Linked DNA regions of Homo sapiens. The protein of the gene in region 4 interacts with the protein of the main gene of each other region in a pairwise test. Each region holds a gene or a part of one and is shown on either strand. Other genes may lie near its edges. The genes, in order: DR1, GTF2B, RNF11 and ASCL4.

Region 1 (7,031 bases), on a different chromosome or scaffold from region 4:
TTTAAATCTTTTGAAGAGAGAAACAAAATCTTCAGCGTTCTTGAGAAATAAAATTATTGTTCAGTAAGTATTTTTCCATCCCCTTGAATATATGTTATATATTCTTTTTCGGCAGATTATCAGATTAGTAAGTGTTTAAAAGGCATCAGTTTTTAAAACTGCATATACCACACACACACAAAACAGTACACAAATAAAGGTTTTCACAAATTAAACAAACTCACATACTAGTCTTCAGATCAAAACACAGAGCATTATGTGTACCCCAGAAGCCCTCCTCTTTCCCCATCTTAACACTGTCTTCTTTCTTGCTGAAAGTTACTATCCTGACTTCTAAAATCATAGATTAGTTTTGCCTGTTTTTTATTTTATGTAAATGTAATCATACATAATACACTTTTTTTCATTCATCATTTTTGTGAATATTTTAGTTTCTTGTTGCCACTGTAACAAACTACCACAAACTTAGTGACTTAAAACAACACAGATTTATTCTTTTATAGTCCTGGAGATCAGAAGTCCAAAAATCAGTTTCATTAGGCCTAAATCAAAGTATCAGCAGGGTTGGCTCTTTATTGAGGTTGTGAGGGAGAATGTTTTCTTCCCTTTTTTGGCTTCCAGTGACGGCCTGTATTTATGGGCTTGTGACCCCTTCCTCTCTATGATCAAAGCTTGCTTTTGTCATTATATCATCTTCTCTTCTGTAGTCAGATCTTTCCCTGCCTCTAAGTTTAGGGCTCACCTGCATAAAGCAGGGATAATCCCCCTATCTCAAGATCCTTAATTTAATCACATCTGCAGAATCTCTTTTGCCATATAAGTGACATTCACAGGTTCCAGGGATTCATACGCTGGCTATCTTTGGAGGCCGTTATTCAACCTGCCAAAGTGAGATCCATTCTTATTGTTGCATGTATTTGTAGTTCATTCATTCTCATTGCTGTATAGTCTTCCGTTTGTTTATCCATTTTTCATTACATCCAAAAGTTATTCATTCTCCCATTAATAGTCTTTTGAGAATTTTTCAATTCTGAGCTATTATGAATAGTACTGTGTAGAACATTCTTATACATGTCTTTTGGTGAGTGTATACATTTCCATTGAGTATAAACCTAAGAATGGAATTGCCAGGTTGTAGGGTGTGTATATTTTCAGTTTTAGTATTTACTGTCAAACAGTTTTCCAAAGTGACTGTAAGAAGGCACCATTTTAATGTGTAGCATAAAAATGAATTACGCTAATGATCTTAGTGGGTTGAATTTCTCGAAACACCTAAATTGTACCAAATGAGTTATATTGCAGCAGGTATGTTGTTAATTTCATATAACAGGAAAATAAGAGCAAAAGTAATTGCCCTTATTAACTGACACATTAGTATTACATACTCATTAGGTTATTGCTCCTTAGAAAAAATGCAAATTTTAAGTAATCGTAAGTAGTATGTTGAATTAGTATGTTGTGGGAAAATCTGTGATTTAATTTTTTAATTGAATTTTAAATTTTGGGTTATAACCTCATTAAAATGCATGATATTTCCTTATATAGGTTTCTAAATTATGTCTGTCCAACTCATCTATATCCAAATGGCCATTAGGAAGAATTATCCAATTCAGATGGCATAGGCACTGCCTTCCAATTTCTTCATTTGTATTTTTTTGTTGCTGTTTTCTTTTTTGCCTCTGTCCCCAACAATTTGACCACAAGTCCTACCCCACCTCCTCTGTTTTTCACCATCCCCCAGGATATAAAGTGTCATGGTTAGGATCGGCCAGGGTGAAGAGAATGATAACATAAGTAGCCTCCTTTCACCTAAAGTATTACCACTGGTTCTTATCCTATTTCCTCAAAATAAATGAGAAGAGAAAGTAAGGAATAAGAGGAAGAAACTTTTTTTTTTTTTTTAAAGAAACAGGGTCTCACTATGTTTCCTTTTTCTTTTTTCTTTTCTTTTCTTTCTTTTTTTTTTTTTTTTTTTTGAGACAGAGTCTTGCTCTGTCACCCAGGCTGGAATGCAGTGGCGCGATCTCGGCTCACTGCAAGCTCCGCCTCCCGGGTTCACGCCATTCTCCTGCCTCAGCCTCCTGAGTAGCTGGGACTACAGGTGCCCGCTAGCACGCCCAGCTAATTTTTTTTGTTTTTTTTTAGTAGAGACAGGGTTTCACCGTGTTAGCCAGGATGGTCTCGATCTCCTGACCTCGTGATCCACCCGCCTTGGCCTCCCAAAGTGCTGGGATTACAGGCGTGAGCCACTGCGCCCGGCCTATGTTTCTTAATATAGATTGCAGTGGCTAGATTACAGTGACTATTCACAGGCATAATCATAATGCACCATAGCCTCAAACTCCTGGGCTCAAGCAATCCAAAAGGAGGAAACTTTTAACTTATGATCAGTTTCTACCATAAATCAAGCAACTTAGAAAAACCTTAGAACAGGGTTTCTCAAACCAAGCATTGTTAGTATTTGGGGTTGGTTAAGTCTTTGTTTGTGGGAGCCTATCCTGTGCATTGTAGGATTTCTAGCAGCATAATTGGCTTATGCCCACTTGATGTCATTAGCACCACTCCCCACCCTACTTCCAGTTGTGACAACCCAAAAATGTCTCCAGACATAGCCAACTGTCCCTGGGTGTTGCGAGTATAGGAGGCAAAATTGCACCCTGTTGAAAACCACCACCTTAGATCATCTAGGTTTTACTTTTAGGATAAGACACTTGAGGGAAAGGCTGTGAAACTGAACCTCTGTTAGAAGCAACACACAGTATCACTGCAAAAAGACTAAAAGAAATAGGTGATTTGGAAAGAGGAGGCCCAGGATTAAAATATGTTTCCAAGAAAGTCAAATCTTACAGGAGACTCTTGACTTCACATCTGCTGATCCCTTTACCCGATAGGACCTAGAGCAGCCATTATAAATCTCTGTACCTGCTTGCTGCTTTTCTACCTCATTGTTAGCCACACCCAGTTTGAAACAGATGAGGTATGCTATTTCATAACTAGTACATCTTTTAATAAGCATTTTTTATTGTGATTAAATATGCATATCGTAAAATTCACCACTTTAACCAGTTTTAAGTGTTCAATTCTGTGGCATTAAGTATATTCATACTATTGTGCAACCACCACCACCATCCGTCTACAGAACTCTTCATCTTCCCAAACTGAAATTATGTATTCATTAAACAATAACCACCCATTACCTCCTCTCTCCTCAGCCTCTGGTAACCAGCATTCAGTCTCTATGAATTGACTACTCTGGATATCTAAATGGATTCATTCTTATTTCATTTACCATAATGTCTTCAAAGTTCATTCATGTTGTAGCATGTATTAGAATTTCTTTCCTCTTAAAGGCCAAATATGCCGTAGTATGTAAATACCGTATTTTGTTTATCAGTTCATCCATTAATGGACACTGGGTTGCTTCTGCTTTTTGGCTATTGTGAATAATGCTTCTGTGAACGTGGGTATACAAATAACTGTTTGAGTCCTAATAGGCTTGTTATTTTTGAGTGCACAGATCTGTATATTCGCAATTGAAATAGGGAAAGTCTTTATATTCATATAAAGATAATTTATAATACAATAAGTCCTCAATGTTGTTGATAGGTTCTGGGAAACTGCGAGTTTAAGAAAAACAACATATAATGAAATCAATTTTACCATAGGTGAACTGATATAAATAAGAGTTAAGTCCCTATGGCATATATTTCTGGTTACAAAAACACTACCAAATTTCTAATAAAGACCCAAAACACTTCTAAAATTAAACATTGAGATTAATATGAGCTTTATATACATTTAAAAAGGATAAAAACAAGTAAGAATTGGCTGGACATGGTGGCTTACGCCTGTAATCTCAACACTGGGAAGTCGAGGTGGGCAGATGGCTTGACCTCAGGAGTTCGGAACCAGCCTGGGTAATATGGTGAAACCCGTCTCTACAGAAAAATTCAAAAATTAGCCAGAGGTGGTGGCTTGCACCTGTAGTCCCAGCTACTCGGGAGCCTGATGTGGGAGGATCCCTTGAGCCTGGGAGGTCGAGGCTGCAGTGAGCCATGATCACGCTACTGCACTCCAGTCTGGGCAACAGAGCAAAATCCTATCTCAAAAAAAATATATATATTATCCAGCCCCAAATGTTTATGGGGTTGTTATTGATAAACCCTGCATTAAACAATCCCACAGTCGGTGCTGCGGTGAGCCGTGATGGTACCACTGCATTCCAGCCTGGGTGACAGAATGAGACCCTGTCTCAAAAAAAAAAAAAAAAAGTAAAAATTATTTACCCAATATTTGGCGAATCAGTGAGTGACAGCAGTTGTAGTGCTAGTGGGTTAAATCAAGGAATAACTGTTGGGAAGTGAAAATTTTAAGGAGCACCTCCTACCACCATGCAGTTCAAAAACAAAAAATAAGAAATAAAGTGGGCTTGCTGAGTGCTTTCATACTGCATCATTTATTGTGCATTTGTATGATTATTATATACTTTACAAATTTTCGTTTTACAGTAATTTGTATTCATTCGTTTTTCAACCTGCTTATTTCAGTTCAGTGTCTTGGGTAGCTGGAGCCTATCCCAGCAGCTCAGGGAGCAAAGTGGGAGCCAACCCTGGACAGGATGCCTTTTCATCACAGGGCGCACTCACACGGCACACACACGCATACTGGGACCATTTAGCTGTACCAATTCACCTAACGTGCATCTTTGGGAATTGAGAAGAAACCAGAATACCCAGAGAAAACTCATGCAGATATGTGGAGGACATGCAAAATTCACACAGACAGTGGCCCTGGTTGTAAATAATTGTTTTTCATCAATGTTATAATGAAATTACAGGCCGGGTGTGGTGGCTTACGCCTGTAATCCCAGCACTTTGGGAGGCCGAGGCGGGTGGATCACGAGGTCAGGAGATAGAGACCATCCCGGCCAACATAGTGAAACCTCATCTGTGCTAAAATACAAAAAATTAGCCAGGCTTGGTGGTGTGCACCTGTAGTCCCAGCTACTTGGGAGGCTGAGGCAGGGGATTTCTTGAACCCAGAAGGCGGAGGTTGCAGTGAGTTGAGATCGCGACACTGCACTCCAGCCTGACAACAGAGCAAGACTTCGTCTCAAAAAAACAAACAAAAAAAGAAATTACATTAGTTGAGGACCTGCTGTATGTGATATGAACAATGAGGATCAACTCTTTTTGTAATAGTTTTTTTACATATGTTATTTCATTTGTTTATTTCCTCTGTGAGGGTAAGTATTGATAGTCCAGTCATAGACTGGTAACACAGGCACACCATTAAAAATAATAGACATACAGTATGCAGTATTTTGTTTTACTTATGAAACTCCGTATTTTATGTATGATGTATTGAGTATGAAGAATAGTACATACTGTTTCCTTTTAACTTTATGTTTCTTGCCTTTGTATATTTTATATGAATAGCACTTGTCACTAACATAGAAAGCAGTAGAGGTGGAAGAGGGAGACTTGCCAGAATAAGTTTTTAATGTGAATCAGAGATTTTTATTAGGAATTGGGAGTGGAAGGAGAGAGATAGTATTAGAAAGTATGTATGCAGCAAAGGATGGAGAAACTGTCCTTGTTGTTAAGGCATCTAAGGATGCTCCAATTACTGGGGAAAACATACCAGGCTCAAAATGGTCTGATTATGCAAATACCTTCTAATACGTTTGTTTCTTTTGTTGTGCCTATAAAAGATGCCATTAACTTCATATTTATGTCACTAATAAACTTCTAGAATCCATGTAGTAGGGTGTAGTAGTGTGGTTAAGCTATGAAGAACAATGGTATTTATTTCCAAAACACTTATTTGGTATATTACATAGGATAGAGTATGTTTTCTAAGCCAAATAGTGTTAGGTTTTCATGTGCAGTTGCCTTACACATATACTAGTAGCCCTTACAAAATTTCGTCTGTCTTTATTATAAACATGTTGTAAGTGAGGAAACTAAGATTCCAAGAAATTAAGTACTGTTGGCCCTCTGTGTCTGGGGGTTCCACATCTATAGATCGACCAACCATGGACTGATGGATTGAAAACATTTGGGGAAAAAACAAAAAATAACCCAACAATGAAATAGTATAAATTTTAAAAATAATATAACAATATTTATATATCATTTACATTATGTTAGATATTATAATCTAGAGATGATTAGCATCCTTGGATTTTGGATTTTGGTATCCTTGGGGTATCCTGGAACCAATCCCTGGCGGATACCAAGGGATGACTGTAATATAATAACATCTAACAAGTGAAGGATTTGAACCCCAATGTAAGTAATTATGAAAACTATTTTTCTTCCACTAGAACTTTTTTCCCCAAAAATACTCTGGAAATACTGGAACAAATACTAAAATAAATGACCTTTATTTGAAGATCTTTTAAAAAAATTATAAGCCTGCCTGAGGATAGCAAAATTGTGTGCTTTTGCAAGGTAATTGTAGAACTCATTCTAAGGAAGCAGAGGTAATGTCTGTTACTATTTTCAGCTCCCTTTTTCTGTCCACTGTTGTCTAAATGATTCACTCAGTGTTATGCAGAATATGAGAAGTTATTTTATAAAGTTGATTTGTGGTATAGGCTTTACATATGTCTTTTCTTTTGGTCAAAATACTAAAGAAAGCTTATAGAAAAAGTGACCTGGTGTCAGGTTTTAGTTTCATCCTTATCCAAATGTTGCAGAATTTTGGAATCTTTTGGAGTACACTTTCTCTTTAAAACAAGCCCATCACCTTTAGTATAGTGGTGAGTAAAAATAAAATAAAAACAAGGCCAAATTGCGTTTTTCTAAATTGCAAGTTCCCTGTTTTCCATATCCCAGTAACAAACCTACTGTTGTGCAAATAGGAAATAACATCTAGTAGCTACTTTAGCAATGGACGTGGCAAAATAAATAAATTAGTAGCTATGGCTCATTATTTAGGATTTAAATGAGCCATAACTACTATAAATGAAATTGAAGATCATGTTCTTAATTTGAAATTAAGGATCATGATCTCATTGGTACTGA
Region 2 (7,031 bases), on a different chromosome or scaffold from region 4:
GCCGAGGCGGGTGGATCACCAGGTCAGGAGATCGAGACCATCCTGGCCAACATGGTGAAACCCCATCTCTACTAAAAATACAAAAAATTAGCCAGGCGTGGTGGCATGCGCCTGTAGTCCCAGCTACTCAGGAGGCTGAGGCAGGAGAATCGCTTGAACCCAGGAGGAGGAGGTTGCAGTGAGCCGAGATCGCACCACTGCACTCCAGCCTGGCGAGAGAGCAAGATTCCATCTCTAAATAAATTAATAAATGATGTTTAAAAATCCATTTTAATAAAGCATTCATAATACTTAACCAAATACTGTCTCAAAAAAAAAGTGGGAGCTAAAGTCAGTAACAAGCAACAATAAAAATGATTACTAGTACTTACTACCTTACAGGGTTGTCAATGTTTTAAAGGGTTTAACTAACATAAAATATATGAATAGTGTTCAGGTCTTAGTATTAGGAGTGTTATCATCTTATACTGGGTATTGTATTTACAACTGACTCCTCCTTTTTCTTTATAAATCTTTCTGAGGATCACAAAAGTACTCCACAAATATGTTCTTGTAAAGAAATTCACTTTATATTTCTGTGTTTGAAAGCTCCCATGCAAAATCTCCCCTAGCTAACTTCTGTTAAGGGGTCCTTATTAAAAACAAAATGTGATACTATAAATATTGTTCTACAATCTTTTTTTCTACTTAATACATCAGAGATCAAACAGCTACTTATTATAGCATACGGAGATGTTTTTCACTGATACAAGCACATACTTAAATATTTTGAGCTCAAACGAACATTGTACAGAATCCTAACAGATCCACTTTTACCCTTTAAAGTCGCTGTCCCTTTTTTCCTTTCAAAGTCATTAAAAGAAATACTAAAGGACTGCCACTACAATGTTTGGTTAAGTATTATGAATGCTTTATTAAAATGGATTTTTAAGCATCATTTATTTATTTATTTAGAGATGGAATCTTGCTCTGTCACCCAGGCTGGAGTGCAATGGCAAGATCTCGGCTCACTACAACCTCTGCCTCCCCGGTTCAAGCAATTCTCCTGCCTCAGCCTCCTGAGTAGCTGAGGCACCTGCCACCATGCCCAGCTAATTTTTGTATTTTTAGCAGAGGCAGGGTTTCACCATGCTGCCCAGGCTGGTCTCAAACTCCTCACCTAAGGTGATCCACCTGCCTCAGCCTCCCAAAATGCTGGGATTACAGTCATGAGCCACCACGCCTGGCCTAAACACCTTTTAATACAAATTCATTTTACTACCTTTTCAGTTGATTCAAATCAGTGAGGTTTTAGTGATTTTCACTGTGAATGCCTGCCATCATTGTACAATTAGCTAATTTTAAATTTCCGTATCTCACACTGCATTACATTATTCTACATCTAAATACCAATAAATGCCAACTATTTGAATGTCAACTGCCTGCTGTGCAGGGAAGAGAAAGACCTTACATTTGAAGAAGACTTTACATATAAAGCCAAAAAGCAGAAAGCAACAAGATTAATGTTTTCATGTTGTTCATTAGAATAAACTTTACAACTAGGAATGTACCTCAAGGACAAACTGCCTAGCTGCAACTTCTCAATTTTACTAAAAGACTCAAAATTTCCTTAAAACGTGAGTGAAGGCCAAAGGGAATGGATAATGGCTCCTTCAAATAACTAATGATTGGCTTTCTTTCTCTAATTATTCCTATCATTTATTACTTTTTTCAACATATAGCCTAAGCTGAAGGCTGTTGTGAATAAAGTATTACAAAGTTATTGAGGCCAGTAATTCACTTTCTGTTTTTGTTTTTTTTTTTTTTTTTTGAGACAGTCCTGTCTCCCAGACTGGAGTACAGTGGTGCAATCTAGGCTCACCGCAACCTCTGCCTCCCAAGTTCAAGAGATTCTTGTCTCTTAGCCTCCCGAGTAGCTGGGACTACAGGTGTGCACCACCATGCTGGGCTGATTTTTGTATTTTTAGTAGAGATGGGGTTTTGCCATGTTGGCCAGGCTGGTCTTGAACTGCTGGCCTCAAGCAATCCACTCACCTTGGCCTCCCAAAGTGCTGGGATTACACAGGTGAGCCACCGCGACCTGCCACCAACTTTTCTTTTTTTTGAAAAAGAGCCTCACTCCATCAACCCAGGCTGGAGGGCAGTGGCATGATCTCAGCTCACTACAACCTCTGCCTCCTAGGTTCAAGTGATTCTCCTACTTCAGCCTCCCTACTAAATGGGATTCAGATATGTGCCACCACACCCGACTAATTTTTTTGTGTTTTTAGTAGAGACAGGGTTTTGCCATGTTGGCCAGGAGGCTGGTCACCGCACCTAGTTTATGAATTTCTTTACATGCATTTGTTCATGAATAACTTCTGTAATCCTCAAAGACTTAGAAAGGAGTAGTCACTTCTAACTTTAAAAGGGAGTTAGTGGGCCATGTGTGGTGGCTTGTGCCTATAATCCCAGCACACTGGGAGGTGGAGGCAGGCGAATCACATGAGGCCAGGAGTTCGAGACAAGCCTGCCCAACATGGTGAAACCCCATCTCTACTAAAAATACAAATATTAGCTGGGCGTGGTGGCACGTGGCTGTAGTCCCAGTTACTCAGGAAGCTGAGGCATGAGAATAGCTTGTCCGGGAGGTGGAGGTTGCAGTAAGCTGAGATTGTGCCACTGTACCTCCAGCCTGCGCAACAGAGGGAGACTGTTTCAAAAACAAAAAAAAAAAAAAAAAACAAAAAAAAAAAAGGAAAAGAAATTCACTTAATACTTCTGGTGAAAGTTTTCCTACAACACTAAATTTAAACATAGCTTTAGAAGGCTGAATTACTTACATCTACTTATTTCAGAATTTGTATTAAGAAACTGTAAAATACTGTGCAAAATGGGAAAAAACCAACCTTCACAGAATGTTAAAGGCTGATGGCCAACACGTATTTTACAGTGTGTCTATCTGTAGAATCCCATGCCAAGCAGTGAGAAACAAAGCATGGCCTCCCTGACCCCTAAGATTTAAAAAGGTAAGTTTGGAAAGGAAAAGAGTATTCAAAATGATCAGGAGGAATATATTCAGGGAGAAAAAAGAACTTGTAAGAATAAAAGATGTACAAACTAAAATAATTCAAATGGGAAAAAAATTAGGTTTGTTCACAGGGTTATGTCTCTGAACATTTTTTTTATGAGCTGCTTAAAAAGCAAAACATATTTTCTTAACATTTTGACGTTGAGGAATGATGTCTTAAACGTGGGTTTTTTTTTTTTTTTGAGATGGAGTCTTGCTCTGTTGCCCAGGCTGGAGTGCAATGGCACAATCTCAGCTTGCTGTAACCTCCACCTCCCAGGTTCAAGCAATTCTCCTGCCTCAGCCTCCTGAATAGCTGGGATTACAAGCCCCACCACCACACCCAGCTAATTTTTGTATTTTTAGTAGAGATGGGGTTTCACCATGTTGATCAGGCTGGTCTCGAACTCCTGACCTTAGGTGATCCTCCCGCCTCGGCCTTCCAAAGTGCTGAGATTATAGGTGTGAGCCCCCGCGCCTGGTCAAATGTGGGTTTCTTGCTATTTACCCGGTTCAGACTTAAAATGGAAAAACAATCACATGCTGCAAATTTCAGTTTACTGCCACACTTCCTGATGACGAACCCTACCTTTTTGGGTCCTCTTTTCAGCTGATGCCTGTGAGGCCATGTAAATAGCTGCCGCTGCCACAGAGATGGGGCTCCTCCCAGGAACCAAGTCCAGTTCCACAGCTTTACGGGCTATATGTGTAGCTGCCATCTGTACTTGTTTAGGAAGACAAAGGTTGGAACAGAACCTGGACATGAAGTCCCCAGTTGTAATCAAATCCACACTGGTTTCTAGCGCTTTCAAAATAAGTTTAAAACACCGACCAATTTCTTTCTTAGAAATTCGTGATACGGCACATATTTCTAAAAGAAAAAAAATTAAATAAATCAATTCACTTAAGCCATATAGTTCATCTTAAAATCTACCATTTCTAATTATAAACATAATATACATTCTAATTGTAAAACATTCAATCATACCTTAAAGATGAAACCCTAATCATCTCAGTGATACTTCCCACAGAGTTAACTGCAAATTTCTCAGTTAACTTTAATGTTCATCACACCTTTTTTTTTGAGATGAAGTCTCACTCTGTCGCCCAGACTAAGGGTAGTGGCATGATCTCAGCTCACTGCAACCTCCACCTCCTAGGCTCAAGTGATTCTCCTGCCTCAGCCTCCCGAGTAGCTGGGACTACAGGCGTGCACCACCACACCTGGCTAACTTTTGTATTTTTAGTAGAGATGGGGTTTCACCATGTTGGCCAGGCCTGTCTAGAACTCCTGACCTCAGGTGATCCTCCTACCTCGGCCTCCCAAAGTGCTGAGATTACAGGCATGAGCCACTGCGCCTGGCCTAATGTTCTTCACTCTTTCAATTTAGAGTTTTTTTGTTTTTTGAGATGAAATTTCACTCTGTCGTCCAGACTGGAGTGCAGTGACACCATCTTGGCTCACTGCAACCTCTGCCCCCTGGGTTCAAGCGATTCTCCTGCCACCCGAGTAGTTGGGATTACAGGCGCCTGCCACCACACCCGGCTAATTTTTTGTATTTTTAGTAGAGATGGGGTTTCACCATCTTGGCCAGGCTGGTCTTGAACTCCTGACCTCGTGATCTACCTGCCTCGGCCTCACAAAGTGCTGAGATTACCGGTGTGAGCCATCGTGCCTGGCTAAATTTAGGTCTTAATCTTTCAAAATATTAACTGCTCTAAGGATTAATTCATACAACTAAATTTCTTTAAATGAAAAATTCTTTGATGTTTATGTATTAATCTGTTGTAAGCAGTGTTACCAAGGAATTGAAAGAAAATACTCAAGCTAAAGGATGCCTCTTAGGCAACACAATGTCATGTGTGCATGAAATCCCTGCGATTATGGGCTGTAGCTCAATGAGATAAAATATCTGACCCTGCTATTCCCAGATGCAACCACCACACACTTTCAGAAGAAATTTAACAAAAGTTGTTTTAGTTATAAAAACAACAAAAAAGATGATGATAAAGGCCATCACCTCTTCACTTTTACGTAAGAAAACATAAAAAATAAATACTCACTGGATGAATAAAGGGTTAAGTATAGTCTTCAGCTAAACTGAGCTTTGGTAGTGGAAGTCAGTGAGCAACACTGAACAAATTATCACATATTCACATGTAACTGCAAACTAAATGAAAAATACCAGTTCTTAACTGAAGTGTAAAAGTGCAAACAATACACCTCAAGAGAAAAAACTTAACTGATAACTTTTTTTTTTTTTTTTTTGAGATGAAGTCTCACTCTGTCGCCCAGGCTGGAGTGTAGTGGCGTGATCTCGGCTCACTGCAACCTCTGCCTCCCGGTTTCAAGCGATTCTTCTGCCTCAGCCTCCTGAGTAGCTGGGACTACAGGCGCGCACCACCACGCCTGGCTAATTTTTGTATTTTTAGTAGAGACGGGGTTTCACCATATTGGCCAGGCTGGTCTTGAACTCCTGGCCTCATGACCCAACCACCTCGGCCTCCCAAAGTTCTGGGATTACAGGTGTGAGACACCATACCTGGCCTTCACTGATACTTTCTAAAGCTTGACTCCCTCATCTACAGAGACCAGTGCTAGAAATGGAAACTGTTTCCATGTAAACCAAATGTATAAACGGCCTACTTTGGTTTACGATTATAGGCCTTCTGAAAGCCCACAAAGCAACAGTCCATCAAAAGATCTCACTAGAAAAGAACATAGTGGGCTTACGTGGACTAAAATGAGTCTACATGGGAAAACAGCCTAAAAGAACATGCTATGAATTTGCTGTCAAGGAATGAAATAAGTAGGCATTGGCAAATGATGCTCAAGTGGATTACTGTAGTCACAATAAAGATGACTTAGCTTCTAAGTGTCAAAGCTGCCTGACATTGGTCTGTTTCTTTAATATGATGTAGAAAATGTTATTTTAGGATGGGCACAGTGCCTCACGCCTGTTAATTCTAGCACTTTGGGAGGCCAAAGTGGGCAGATCACCTGAGGTCAGAAGTTTGAGACCAGCCTGGCCAACATGGCGAAACCCTGTCTCTACTAAAAATACAAAAGTTAACCAGGTGTGGTGGCACATGCCTGTAATCCCAGCTACTCAGGAGGCTGAGGCAGGAGTATAGCTTGAACCTGGGAGGCAGAGGTTGCAGTGAGTCAAGATTGCGCCACTGCACTCTGGCCTGGGCGACAAAGTGAGACCCTATCTCAAACAAACAAACAAACAAACACAAAAAAACAAAGCTAAAAACTTACCTTTAAATGTCCTAGGAACCCCTTCTTGTCTACAGGCAATATAGAGACAAGCAGAAGCTATAGCATCATTAGCTCTTCCCTTCAGGCTCTTCTGTTCATATACTTGCTTGAATAAATTATTTGTTCGATCCTTCAAAGCAGAGAAACTAAGTTTAACTCTACGTCATTTAATTAGCTGCAATATCAAAATTTCATGTGTTCATTAAATTATGCAAAGTCAATGCCAGAATGGCTTAAAGGAGGTAGACAAGAACTTACAACTATATTTCGAGGTAGATTGATTCTGTCTGCCATGGTAGTGATTTCTTTGAATGCATTCATCATTGCCCGATCAGAACTGCTCATTGTTCTCCGATTCTGGTACTTAGAATTGCCAAATTCGTCAAAACTTGCAGCTCCTGTGCCCTATAAAACAGTTTTATAACTATGAAAAAATTTTTTGGAAAGCATGAAAAATGGACAATTTCTATGAAAATATAGCTTACAAGATCTGATTCTACATAGACCAGAAATCTGAATTGTGCATCCTGCTCATCTATACTAAATGAACATGTAATTCTAACAACTGTTCAAGAACATAGAAAATAGGAAGCTTAAAGTGTATAAATAGAAATATGATACAAACACCTGACAAAACAATGGAAAAAGAAACAGTCTAATTTCACTTAGAAATATGATAAAAAATATTAAATACTAGAAAACAGAATCCAACAGCAT
Region 3 (6,706 bases), on a different chromosome or scaffold from region 4:
CAGGGGATCTGTTATCTCAATGCTTACTATTGCATGAAATCATACTGTTTTATATCACATGATAAACACCAATAGCAGGGGGCGAGTCTTCTAGTACCGACTGAGGAGATTCCCTATCAAGAAACTCACAGAATTTTTTAAGTTTGTGTTAGGTAAACTACAAATATCTGAAAGTATTTCAACTTGTTAGGTTTTACACTCAAAAGGATAAGATTCTTTTGTTTCTTCCTGGTTAGGCTTTTTAGAAATTTCAAATCCCACAGCCAAGCTTGGACATATCTTGCCCATATCTAAATCAAGAGATTATAGCTATTGTTTGGTTTTAGAAACTTTGGTGCTATCAAGCCTAAGTATATGATTAAATGATATTAAATGCCAAACAATAAAAAATACTTCCCACAGGTATATATAGAGAGAGAGATTTTAAAATAATCATACACAACTTTTTAAAAGATTATATGGGGAATACTTACTTATGTAATCAACTCTAACTTTAGCCCTTCACAGCTGTATTATAACTTTATTTAACAACTTAGTAAAAGTCAAAATTGATGGTTCTTAACATTGTATGTTGAGAATATAAAGTGCCTAAAAAAGACACATTCTGCCCAATGCTAGTTCTTTCAATATTACCACCAAACTTCTGTGAAAGACTTGTAATGAAAAGAAAGACTAACTGCAACATGGAAGATGATTTTTAAAAAAGTTCATTTGCCAATTTTAACAATCTAGAAAAAAAGAAAAGTCTGACTATAATACTTGATGACACAGACATTATGTTTAAGTAGAAAACACAAGAATAAAAAAAGCAATTATCAGAAAATATTGCACAACTTCAGTTGTTTCCTCCAAATTTGCTTTATGTACTTGGGTGGATATAAATTAATAAACAGAAATTTAAGCAAGATACATGTAACAATTTAACAGAACCTGATAATCTAATTTCTTTCAATTTTTCTCAAATTCATCTTTAAGTCTTTCCATCATGGGGCTCATAAGGAAATTTAAGCAACATATGGATACTACAGTTGAATGTCAAATCTTTACAAAGTACTTATGACATACTACATTCCTCTATAATGCAATTATGAATAACCTTCATGACACTGTGTTTTGTATGTAGAAAACTGTTAGAGTTCAATATTCAACTCAATATAAAATAATAATAAGAAACACTTCTGATGTTAGGTTGAGACCACTTTTCCTTTTGCTAATGAATGATTTTTTTAGCTGTAATATCACTGAGGTGAACCAATAAGTCACCTTTGAGTACATATGAAAAAATAAACACATGCTAAATGGATAAAACATTACTACTACATCTTTACTAGACCATCTCTACCTCTAACACTTCAGAAGCTTAGAGATTTAAAGTATTCTTACATTAACTGCAAGAAACAAAGGAGAAATTCCTTCTTTTTTGAGATCACAACTATGAAGTCATATGGTTATACAAATTCTGCGTTTGTGTGCAAAACATAAAATACAATTATCTTTATTCTCCCTGCTTAGTTTTGTCAGTCAGCTAGCAGGATGTAATAGATACCTTTCCAAGAAACAGAGACTGAGATGTGTTTTGTATAACTTCAATAACCTCAGCACTACAGTAATGAGAGATGCAGTATCCTTTTGCTATGGTTCAAGACAAGAGGCAAGGAGGTCAGAAGAAAGAGAATAAATCAAAATTTTTACAACTGAGTAACTATTTCTCATTAGGTCTCACCACGGTGCCACCTTCATTTTTACATAAACGTGGTGGCATAATTCAATCTCAATAAATCAGAATTCTTAATATTTAAAATTTAACTTGACTTTCCATTATCACCATATTAACAACCAAAATAATTAGATAAAACACATAGGAAAGGGTAATATTAAACCCCACCTTAATAGAGTTGGTTTCTTGACACATTAACTTATTTTTTATAGAAAAGGGATAGTGCATCTCAGTTTGCTTACAAGCTAGGAGATCACTTTGAATTCTGCATTTCCTAACTGCAAACAGAATATAGCACTTATAACAGGTTATAAATAAACTGGTTTTCAAGCATAGAGCCAGCCCCAACGATAATAATACACTATTTAAAAAGACCTAAGGCAATGAATTCCATTTCCAATGGAAAAAAAGAACTGTGCAAACAAGCTTAAAACTACTTTTTTGTGTGTGCCAGTGTTATAAAATGTAGCTTTTAATAAAACCTTGACCCAAATGCCAGCAACTTCAGAAAAGAATTCGGGTGGGGAAGGGGAAGAGAAGAAAGTTATTTCATTTAGGAAAAATAACTACTATCTTTTTCCTAATCTTCAATACACACAATTTAAACAAATACAGCTGCTGTTAACACTTTACACAATTCCTATGTACTGGAGCAATAACAAGATCTAAATACAATTATATTTTTAAACATTGGGTCAAGGCTTTACATAAAAATACCATCCTACTTTTCCCACTAAGTTTCTAAAATATCACGTACTTTTTCCCCCAACATCTGCAGCCATCCAGGAATTTTAAGGAAACTTTTGTGCACGATCTTAATTCCTAATCCCTGGCTCTTTGGGCTCAGTGACAAAAGATCAAAACCACCAAAATGGTGGTTCACTTGAAGTCAGATAAGAGACCCTGGCTCAATTAGTCTCATAGGATGAAAGCAGTGCTGCATCAACTGGCTCCATGCAGGAGGGGCACGTGAAGGATCTCATCAACCAGTCATCTATACAGTCCAGGTGATAGATGTGCATGCACGGCAGAAATCGAATTGGGTCCCCATAAACAAAGTCCATCATACAGATCACACACCTGTTGAGAGCAATGGAGAGAAATCAGAAGGCATTTTCAGAAGTGTCCTATTCAGAAAACTCTTTAAATCCCATTAAAGACAGTGTTAATCTGAGTAACACATCAGAATGCTTTGCCTGTCATCTTATTGCCAAAGCATGCAAACTGAATTTTTTCCTAATGTTGATCTGTCCACAGTCTCTTATTTCAATCCCCTGAGAATTTGCAGGACTTAGGAGCAATCAACAGAGCAAAGAGAAATGGATTACATATGCATCAAATCTACTGCTGTGCTTGTAAACAGCTACATATTATAGCAGATACCTGAAGGAGAATGGGATTATTTTAGGTAGAAAAGCATCAGTTAGATCAACTTTGTTTTCTTGCACTATTTAGTGTAATCCTGGACTAAGACAATTTTCATTTTAGTAACTGTAAAACAGAAACACTAACTTCGGGCAACTTTGTTTCCTTGTGCTATTTAGAGTAATCCTAGAGTAAGATAATTTTCATTTTAATAACTGTAAAAACAGAAACACTAACTTCAGCCTACTTACTGGGTTGCTGTAAGTTAAAGCTCTCTTCATTAACACTAACTTTCTCTTATTTTACTTTATTTTACTTTTTGAGACAGAGTTTCAAGTGATTCTCCCACCTCAGCCTCCCAAGTGGTTGGGATTACAGGCGCGTGCCACCATGCCTGGCTAATTTTCGTATTTTCAGTAGAGATGAGGTTTCACCATGTTGGCCAGGTTGGTCTCGAACTCCTGGCCTCAAGTGATCCCCCGACCTCAGCCTCCCAAAGTGCTGGGATTACAGGCATAAGCCACTGTGCTCGGCCTGTGAAAATTCTTAATTACTACATAACATTCTCTTGCTAGTAGCCAGTAATAGAGCTATGAAAAAAAATTAAACATTCTCTTGCATTAAGCGAAGTGTTTCAATATATTAAATGTCTGACTTTCTAAAGTGCAGGAGAAAAGGCAAATTTTTCAAAAGCAATCTGAAAATAAAACTTTGAAATGTACAAATTAATTAAAACTTACTCCCGGATCTTTTTTTCTGATCCATCTCTTCCAGGGTCATAAACTCCTTTAGGCAGATGTTGTATAAGACCTATTCTTTGAGCTATCCTAATTTGTTCCTCTTCAGTCAGCTGAGTTGCTAGCCGAGTCTGGCTAGGTGTTGGGTGGTAGACTGGAACTGGAACTTGTTCCTAAAATATTAAAATATAGAGGAAAAAGATTATTTTTTAAAAACCTTTCGAGGGCTTATTTTTTGGTCAGAGATAGAAGGGAAAGGGAGCCCTGGGAGGGGTAGGAAGCTGGGCTAGTGTTTGGCTGTATGACTGTGTTTCACCCTGCCTTAACTTCAGCTACTAGAATAAAACATACACACACCAAAACATTCTCATTCTGCCTAAAGGATATAAACACAGACTTCACTGAACTGGCATGGAATGTTAAATGAACTATTTCCACATGATAAGAGACCAGCCTGGACAACATAGCAAGACCTCATCTCTAAAAATAATTTTTAAAACTTTTTAAATGGACTGGACTATGGCAAAAATAAATCTAAAAGTTATCTAAGACTAACTTTCCCATTTCATAGGACCAAGCTTGCCTACAGTCACTAATTGACAATACTGAAATTAGAATTCTGCTGCTCCTAATCCAACTGATTTTTTACACAACAAAACAATTCAAAGGAATCGTGTGTATAACCCCCACCTTTTTTTGAGATAGGGTCTCCCTCTGTTGCCCAGGCTTAAGTGCAGTGGCACAAACACAACTTACTGTAAACTCAACCCCCTGGGCTCAAGCAATCCTCCAACCTCAGCCTCCTGAGTAGTGGGGCCACAGGGTTGAGCCATGGTGCCTGGCCTATAATAATATTTAAAACTGAGCAACTCTGATGGAATGAAGCTGGGATGGAGTGTGGCCTAGAAGGGATGAGGCTCCCCATCCCCAAGCCCTCACCTTGGTTACCTTTGCAGAATCCTCAGAATCAACAGAGCAGTCTGAAAAACACTACTATCTCAGAAGATGAGATTTTCAGTCTGAAGAATTAAATTATAAGATTTCAGTCTCAGCTCGGCTACTTACTGTGATTGCTTGGACCAAGTCTCTTAATGTCTTTGAATAAAGCAGATAACAGTACCCACTTTAAAGAGTTGATATAATCATGAGATAACTAAGAGCTTTGTAAATGCCAATATTTGTAAATTATTCTAACATCTCCCCAACGTCATGATTCTCCCCATCATGATTCTCTGCTTTGCAGACTTTAAGCTAAGTGCTACTGTCCTTGGCTTTGGTCCTGGCTTTCTGGCTTCTCTTTGAATACTACAAACTCTTGGACTCTGTTGTGATCTCTGCCAGCTCTGAGTTCTTCAACCCTTGAATTACCATTTCCAGTCTAAATTACCTTCCTGAATCTTAGCCTCAGTCCTAGTTGACCAGTTTTGATGAGCTGTCATCCACACGCAAACTGGGAACAAATTGGTTTAAGACTAAGATAATATAAAGGGTCTCTTAAATCCTTGAACCTAACAAACAAAAATAACTAAATTGTTTTAGAGAAAATAAACTCCAACTATGGGTTTTTCAGAGGCTAGATTTCTTCAGTCTTGTGGTTCACATACGTGTAGAGAACACAGAAAGCAGAACAGAAAAGGAAAGTTCTACTTTACGGGGAAACATTAATAAACATTAAAGAAGAAAATAAAAACTATATTTTAATTCACGTTATGAGTGTATTTTCTCCTTTGGTATTTTTTTGTTAAAACAAAGGAACCCTCTCTATATCTTTTAGATATTTAAAATGATTGAACAATCTAATTTCAGTTTACATGGTTCAGAAAACCATAGAGGAAAGGAAATGACTAAGACCTCCTGATATTTTAAAGATGAATGTGGCCTCACCCTTCTTACCACACATGCCTAATTTTAAATTTTAATTCCCATGATACTTGTTTTAAAATGGCTTGATATCTGAGTTATCAATTGTTTCATAACTAGACAGCCACTGATTTTCTAGGCAGCAAAATGGAATCCTGATTCAATTGTTGGCTAACAGACACTGAGTGAGTAGAAGATTAGACAGGGGTATAAAAACAACAATTTTAAAAGATGTGATGGCTGGGCATGGTAGCTCATGCGTGTAATCCCAGAACTTTGAAAGGCCGAGGCAGGCGTATCACCTGAGGTCAGGAGTTCGAGACCAGCCTGGCCAACATGGTAAAACACCATCTCTACTAAAAATACTAAAATTAGCTGGGCGTGGTGGTGCACGCCTGTAATCCCAGCTACTCAGTAAGCTGAGGCAAGAGAACTGCTTTAACCCGGGAGGCAGAGGTTGCAGTGAGCCAAGATCTTGCCACTGTACTCTAGCCTGGGCAACAGAGAGAGACTCCATCTTAACAACAAAAAAAGATATGGATTTGGGGGTGGTTCCCACCATTCCCTATCTGCGAACACTATATGGTTTATGTTCAACACCTGCTTCCCCTCTGAGAATCAGGAATTTTGTCATATGCTAGGCAGTGGGTGCCTAATCAGTACCTGGGGCACTGAGTCTCCAAATGAGCTTCTCTGGCAGAAAACCTTTCATATATGTTGAAGGAATTAAGCATGTCCTGTGTGACTCCACTAGGAGATAACTCTTGGAAGCTTGTGCTTAGTTCCCTTTAGACCAAAGCACCTTTCCCCTTAGCTGATTTTGCTTTGATTCTTTGCTGTAACAAATCATAGATGTGAGTAAGATTATATACTAAGTCCTAAGAGCCCTCCTATTGAATCACCAAACCTGGGGACTGTTTTGAGGACCTCCAACGCCAGTGCTAGGTTGTGCTCCCACTTTATATTTGCAAAGCTACTGTGTTTCGTCCCCAGCTGAAAACAAATGAAAAATAAATAAATATTTTGA
Region 4 (6,470 bases):
AATTTATGACAATTAAATAGGACAAAATGTAAAAAGCCACAACAAAATTCCTAGCACATAAAAGATGTCCACTGAAGATATAGCCTGCCTTAGTTGCTACAACTGTAAAAGGGGGTAATAAAATCTAAGTGAAATCTACCTGGAGGATGCACTTCCACTGTTAGTTCTCTTTGTCCATTTCCATTTCCCCTCCTTCTTCCCCCACAAACCAAAGCTGCCTCCATGGAAAGGATAATTCGGCATATTAGAAAACAATCTTAGGGAAGTTGATCTTCATACATCAGCAGGCATTTAACTTATCTACTGAACTCAAAATTGTTTCTTAGAAAAAAAATGACCCAAATTCAATATTTTAAAAAGGCTTTTAACATGGCCAAAGTCACTACATCATTTCCATATACTGTACCTGGAAGCCCTAATGGTGATAAAAATATTTGAGAATGTACCAACTTCAATCCATCCGTCTTGTCCCATATCTTTCCCCCATCTGGCTCAACCCGCAAAAAGGACTTCCAAGTAGATTTCTTTTTTATTTTTAAAGTCACAGTGCCACTTCAGTTTATCCAAAACTTAGATGGAGAGCTACACGTTGGGGGGCGGGGGGTATGCAGAGAAAAGGAAAATGAAGAAAACAGTGGACAAAACAATTGAGAGGAAAAACAAGTTTTCATACAAATCTGGGCTCTCTTCCAAAGAGATCATTAATTCTAAGATATTTTACTATCTGCTCAATGCTACAAAGCTTCCACGTGGCCACTGGATGAAACAGTGTGTACCAAGCCACGGATTCCCTGGCACCATCATTCACACAGTCAACAACAGCACATGCTGGCAAATTCGTTCTCAAGTACCAGCTTACAGTCTCCTTCACCCAAAGCAGGAGGTCAACAATTACTTTCCATTACATTTTGAATACAATTCCCGAAGGAAGGAATGCAAGAAAATGTTCCTCTCATTTTTAAGGACTGTTTTTGGCTGTTTGGGGTTGTTTCTGTTTTGGTGGCGGTAAAGTTCTTCTTTGGTTAAGGTTTAATGTTTATGTATACCATTTACCCACACCACGGAAGGTGGGAAATTCCAGTTGTTCTCGCCCTTTGAGTTTTTAGAATAATCGTATTTACAATGAGGTGCTCAGAATCTGAAACAGTTTGCATTTTAGAAGTATAGGAAAAGAGTCTCCTTAATAAGCACCTATAAGTTGCAGGCACGTAACCAATAAGGGCAGGGGAGAAATTCCCAAATGTCAAAACAACTCCCCCATCCCCCAAACCCCAGCACCCATTTCTTTTTCTTAAGATTTAGGCCTGGAGAAGATGCCAGATTAAGAATGCAAACCACCTTCGAAGAGGACCTTAGGTTGAGCGCCCGGCTGCGCGCTGTGCGGCGGGCGCGGGGGTCCTGGCCAGTTCGGGCGCTCGCTAGCTGCCCCCCTCCTCGGGCTCGCTGCTGGGCGAAGGCGCCGAAGAGGCCTTGGACTCCCCGTCGCTGTTGCATTCCGCCCTGCGCTGGGGGACGGCGCCGGCCGCGCCCTCGAGCCCCCAGGCCTGGCGCTCCAGCAGCTCCTGCAGGTGCTTGATGTAGTCGATGGCAGCGCGGAGCGTCTCCACTTTGCTGAGGCGCTTGTCTGCCAGCTCCCGGGGCAGGTGGTCTCGGAGGCGCGCATAGCCCTCGTTCACGCAGCGCACCCGCTGCCGCTCGCGCTCGTTGCGCTTGCGGAGGAAGGCGGGCTCGAAGGCGCTGTCCAGCGGCACGGGCAAGTACTGCCATCCCCGTGCGCAGCCGCTGCGCGCCCACTCCCAGCACGCGGCGTCCAGACGCAGGGCGACCCTGAGGGGGTCCCTCCGCGGGAGTCCGGGCAGGGTCCCCGGAACGCCCAGGGGCGCGGTGCGCAGCGAGTATGGCAAGGCCAGCCGTTCCGCCGGTTTACGCGTCTCCATCATTTGCCGGAAAGCACACAAATCACTCAAGAGGTCAATCTCTCAATAGAAGAAGACGAAACAGAATCTTAGAAGCAGAGGTGCTGGTGCAGACTGCCTGGCTCAGTGGGTCTGTCTTTGCAGAAGTTTCTGGGTCCAGAAGTTAGGTTCCTGGACAGGCTTCAGGGAAACGGTGCATGATTCCTGAAGTTCATTGCACTCCTCGATCTTTTTATGATTTAGGCAGAGGTGGTAGGCAAAGACGTAGGATCTCCTAATCCACACTTCAAACCCCGTCTTCCCCACTGATCTTCTTTCAGAAGATAACAAAGGGGGTTCCTCTGCCTGGTCCCCCAGCCTGGAAAGGTGAGCTCACACCAGAGTCATCTTCCAAAGCCACCAAAAGCTTTTCAATGCCTGTAATCCACCACTCTAGGTCTTCAAGAGATGAGTCGTTCGCCAAGAGCCTAGCAATCTTCAGGATTTGAGAAGAGCTCCTCCCAGGAACCTGCAGATCTGGCGGCGGAGGGAAAGTGGACCAGAGGCTTTCTCCTTGAAAATCACTTGACTGTCCTTTGTGGTTTCCCGCGACCAGGTCTAATGGAAGGAGCTTTTAGAGTGTTTGCAAACTTAAACTTGCTCTTTCATTTCTGGGGTCTTAGCCTCATCAAAGGAAAAACTGCTCTCTTGCGGTTATAAAATGTGTCAAGTCAAGGAAGACCCGGGGCGAGGCTTGAGGTTTTTCTTCTTCCAAACCGAATCTTTTAAAAACTCAATGAGGCATGTTTGAAGGGTATAGGAAAAATACAGACTGTAGCAAAGAATATAAGGGTCTGCATATTATGTTCCAACATATGTTGTTTTATGGTTGTTGAGGGTGTTTTATGGAGATGCGACTTTTTAAAAGCACATCAAAAGACTGAACAATAACAAACGCGCTTAGCCGGTTATTTCTCACAGTGCTTACTGTAAACACAGCTTAAATACTGCTTCCCAGCCTCCTCTTCTAATCTCACCCAGGATATAAGGACATCATCTTTCCATAGCGCAAAGAGTGTTTTTCCATTGGATTCTTCTTCTTTAAAAAATGTCATTTATTTTCTCTCTTGGGGGCAGGAAAGCAACATTTGAAAGGTGGAGACTCCAAGTTCCAAGGAGAAAGGATGATGTCTTTGAAGACTTGTCTTTTTAAGACACAACCCCTCCAAAATGAATAATTAATCCATCCGTGTTGGTAAACCTTTGAAGATTAAAGTGTCATTAAAAATCCAACTGTACTGGTTAACGTCAAAGAATATGTTATCACACTGAAAATCAGATTTCCTCTTCTGCAAACCAGTACATTAAAGGTGTCTTCTACTTTAAAAGTCCTACTTAAAAACAAGAGAAGCAAAAACCCCCTACATTTATGATGAGAGCTTTTGCCTATTCCTCAGCAGACAAGGTGCTGCCCTAACATGTTTTTCTTTTTAGTTTGGCAAGTCCTGTTCTTCCCTGTTTGTTCTAAATGATCCGCCTGAAGCAACTCAAAAAACAAGGCAAATAAAATAGAAATAATTATTCCTTTCGGGTATAAGTTAGTCACATTTTTAAAGGTGTAGCTTGGCTGGGTGCAGTGGCTCAAGGTTGTATTCCCAGCACTTTGGGAGGCCAAGGCGGGTGGATTGCTTGAGGCCAAGAGTTCAAGACCAACCTGGCCAACATAGCAAGACCCCCATCTTTTAAAAAGAAGAAAGAAAAATTAAAAGTTGTAGCTCCTGATGAGGTTTGTACTGGCAAATAGCCTAATATATCATCACAATTTCTCAGTAGAATTGAGAAAGCCCTTTCTATTAGGAGAAAAGTCCACCACTCAGGCAGGTAGGCTGTTATACCACAAGGTGCTTTTTGGCCATGTCAAAGATTTTAACTTTTAAGAGTGACAGGAAGATAATGAAATATTTTAAGCAGGGAGGTGACATTTGAAGATTTGTGTTTCAAAAAAGATAACTGTGTCTGCAGATTGAGGACTAGATTGGAAGAGAGCAAAAGGAAGAACAGTTGAGATGCCATTTCTCCTTCTCAGATTGGCAAAAGTTTAAAAGATTGCTAAGATTCAGGGGAGGCAAGGATTTGAGGAAAGGGTGGGAGCATAAATTGCTTCAAGAAACTATTAAAATTATTATTATTATTATTATTATTATTATTATTATTATTTTGAGACAGGTCTCACTGTCACCCAGGCTGGGGTGCAGTGATGCGATCTCGGCTCACTGCAACCTCCGCCTCCCAGGCTCAAGGGATCCTCCTATCTCAGCCTCCTGAGTAGCTAGGACTACAGGCTTGTGCCTCCACATCCCAGCTAAACAAACTGTTAAAATTAATAGTGCACATCACATCCTTTGATTCAGATATCTGTGCCGTTTTGTCCTACCAAAATAAATGTAGCAATACCTATTTATGTGTACAATAATCTTTATTGCAACATTTGTAGCAATTTAAAAAAACGAAGACTCCAGGCAAGGTGGCTTATGCCTGTAATCCCAGCACTTTGGGAGGCCAAAGTGGGTGGATCACTTGAGGTCAGGAGTTCGAGACCAGCCTAGCCAACGTGGCGAAACCCTGTCTCTACTAAAAATACAAAAAATTAGTCAGGCGTTGTAGCAGGTGCCTGTAATCCCAGCTACTTGGGAGGCTGAGACAGGAGAATCACTTGAATCCTGGAGGCGGAGGTTGTACTGAGCCAAGATCACGCCACTGCACTCCAGCCTGGGTGACAGAGCAAGACCCAGTCTCAAAAAAAAAAAAAAAAAGGCGAGGCTGGGCACAGTAGCTCACGCCTGTAATCTCAGCACTTTGGGAAGCCGAGGTGGGAGGATCATGAGGCCAGGAGTTCAAGACCTGCCTGACCAGCATGATGAAACCCCATCTCTACTAAAAATCAAAAAAATTAGCTGGGCATGGTGGCACATGCCTGTAGTCCCAGCTACTTGGGAGGCTGAGGCAGGAGAATTGCTTCAACCTGGCAGGCAGAGGTTGAAGTGAGCTGAGATAGCCTGGGCGACAGAGCGAGACTCTGTCTCAAAAAATAAATAAATAGATAAAGAAGAAGAAGAAAAAGGGAACAGCCTGAACAGCCTGAATGTCCATCAATAGGAAAAGAGTTAAAAATCTTAGAATATTATGCTATTATTAAAAATAATGAGTAAAATCTGTACGTAAGAACTTGCAGACATATCCACAATGTCTTAAGTGAAAAAAGCAAATTGCAGAGTAACATATGCAGCAGGAACATAAAAACAATTCTACATGATGTGTATGTCCTTTATATGTGTTTCTGTGAGCATGGAGAATGAAATAGAAAGACACATACTAAATGGTTTTTTGCATTGGTTGCCTAAAAAGAAAGGGTGGCATTGGGGAGGAAGGGGGGATGTTCATTTTTCTTTATAAATCTTTCTACTGTTTAACTTGTTAATACCAACACTATTACTTTCTTATTTTTATAACCCAGTGAAACTTAATAAGATAAAATGTGTAGAAAGTTCAAATGACACCCCCTGATCTGGCCCAAACCAACAGATTTACCATTAGAAATTAGAACTCTTAGACCAGGTTTTCTGGCTCCTTGTAAATTCTGTCTCTGAGGACGAAGTATCTACAAGACTTTCTCTCTCTCTCTCTCTCTCTCACTGCTAATACCACAATCAAAATTGGTCAAGGCCGGGCGCGGTGGCTCATGCCTGTAATCCTAGTACTTTGGGAGGCCAAGGCAGGAGGATCACCTGAGGTCAGGAGTTCAAGACCAGCCTGACCAACATGGAGAAACCCCGTTTCTACTAAAAATACAAAATTAGCTGGGCGTGGTGGTACATGCCTGTAATCCCAGCTACTTGGGAGGCTGAGGCAGGAGGAGAATCACTTGAACCCAGGAGGCGGAGGTTGTGGTGAGCTGAGATCATGCCATTGCACTCCAGCCTGGGCGACAAGAGCAAAACTCCGTCAAAAAAAAAAAAAAAAAAAAACTGGTCAAATCCTGATCCTACAGTGGTCTTTTTATAGGATCCAAGTAATATAATGACCTAACTGCATGGTCACAAAGAATGCTGACAGAGCCTTTCCTAAAGAACAAAAGCATTGAAAATAAGTGGCTTTTCCAGTAGGAATAGGACTGTTTTACTCACATGATGTGCAGGGTATGGGGTGGGGGTTACCTTCTTTACATAAGAGATCAAAAGAAGAAGTTTTGACTCCTGATTACTCTCCAGTCAGTTTTGACCCAGATAAACATTCTCTCCAACCTAAAGCTGTCCTAAGGCTGGCTAGATCACGTAACACATATGCTAACCTGCCAAGAGTAACTGGGCTGGGTTTGTGTAGTCCTATTTGGGTCTGCTCATGAAAGGGGGCAGATGGGCAGGTATATTTTAATCCTTTCCTTCTAGCTTTTGTCTTTTCTCCCCTGTTTAAGGCTACCTTCTCCTACCGCAAGTTTTACAAGGCCTCCTCTTGTCTATATAACACCTTGGTGTGAATTATGAAGAGGCACCAAACTCAAGGCTTGGAGAATGAATG

Evidence for each region.
Region 1: the proteins of ASCL4 (region 4) and DR1 interact in binary tests that used the Homo sapiens proteins (3 or more experiments, as listed by UniProt).
Region 2: the proteins of ASCL4 (region 4) and GTF2B interact in binary tests that used the Homo sapiens proteins (3 or more experiments, as listed by UniProt).
Region 3: the proteins of ASCL4 (region 4) and RNF11 interact in binary tests that used the Homo sapiens proteins (3 or more experiments, as listed by UniProt).

The regions. Positions count from the first base shown.
Region 1 is NC_000001.11:93,362,896-93,369,926, forward strand, and holds the end of DR1 (protein Dr1), read left to right. Parts: 3' UTR 1-6,598; downstream 6,599-7,031. UniProt on the Homo sapiens protein: The association of the DR1/DRAP1 heterodimer with TBP results in a functional repression of both activated and basal transcription of class II genes.
Region 2 is NC_000001.11:88,853,568-88,860,598, forward strand, and holds part of GTF2B (transcription initiation factor IIB), read right to left. Parts: intron 6,720-7,031; coding exon 6,573-6,719; intron 6,445-6,572; coding exon 6,315-6,444; intron 5,221-6,314; exon of another isoform or gene 5,114-5,220; intron 3,921-5,113; coding exon 3,639-3,920; intron 1-3,638. UniProt on the Homo sapiens protein: General transcription factor that plays a role in transcription initiation by RNA polymerase II (Pol II). Involved in the pre-initiation complex (PIC) formation and Pol II recruitment at promoter DNA.
Region 3 is NC_000001.11:51,267,242-51,273,947, reverse strand, and holds the end of RNF11 (RING finger protein 11), read right to left. Parts: intron 3,993-6,706; coding exon 3,823-3,992; intron 2,798-3,822; coding exon 2,626-2,797; 3' UTR 501-2,625; downstream 1-500. UniProt on the Homo sapiens protein: Essential component of a ubiquitin-editing protein complex, comprising also TNFAIP3, ITCH and TAX1BP1, that ensures the transient nature of inflammatory signaling pathways. Promotes the association of TNFAIP3 to RIPK1 after TNF stimulation.
Region 4 is NC_000012.12:107,770,686-107,777,155, reverse strand, and holds ASCL4 (achaete-scute homolog 4), read right to left. Parts: upstream 2,453-6,470; 5' UTR 1,938-2,452; coding exon 1,419-1,937; 3' UTR 512-1,418; downstream 1-511. UniProt on the Homo sapiens protein: Could be a transcriptional regulator involved in skin development.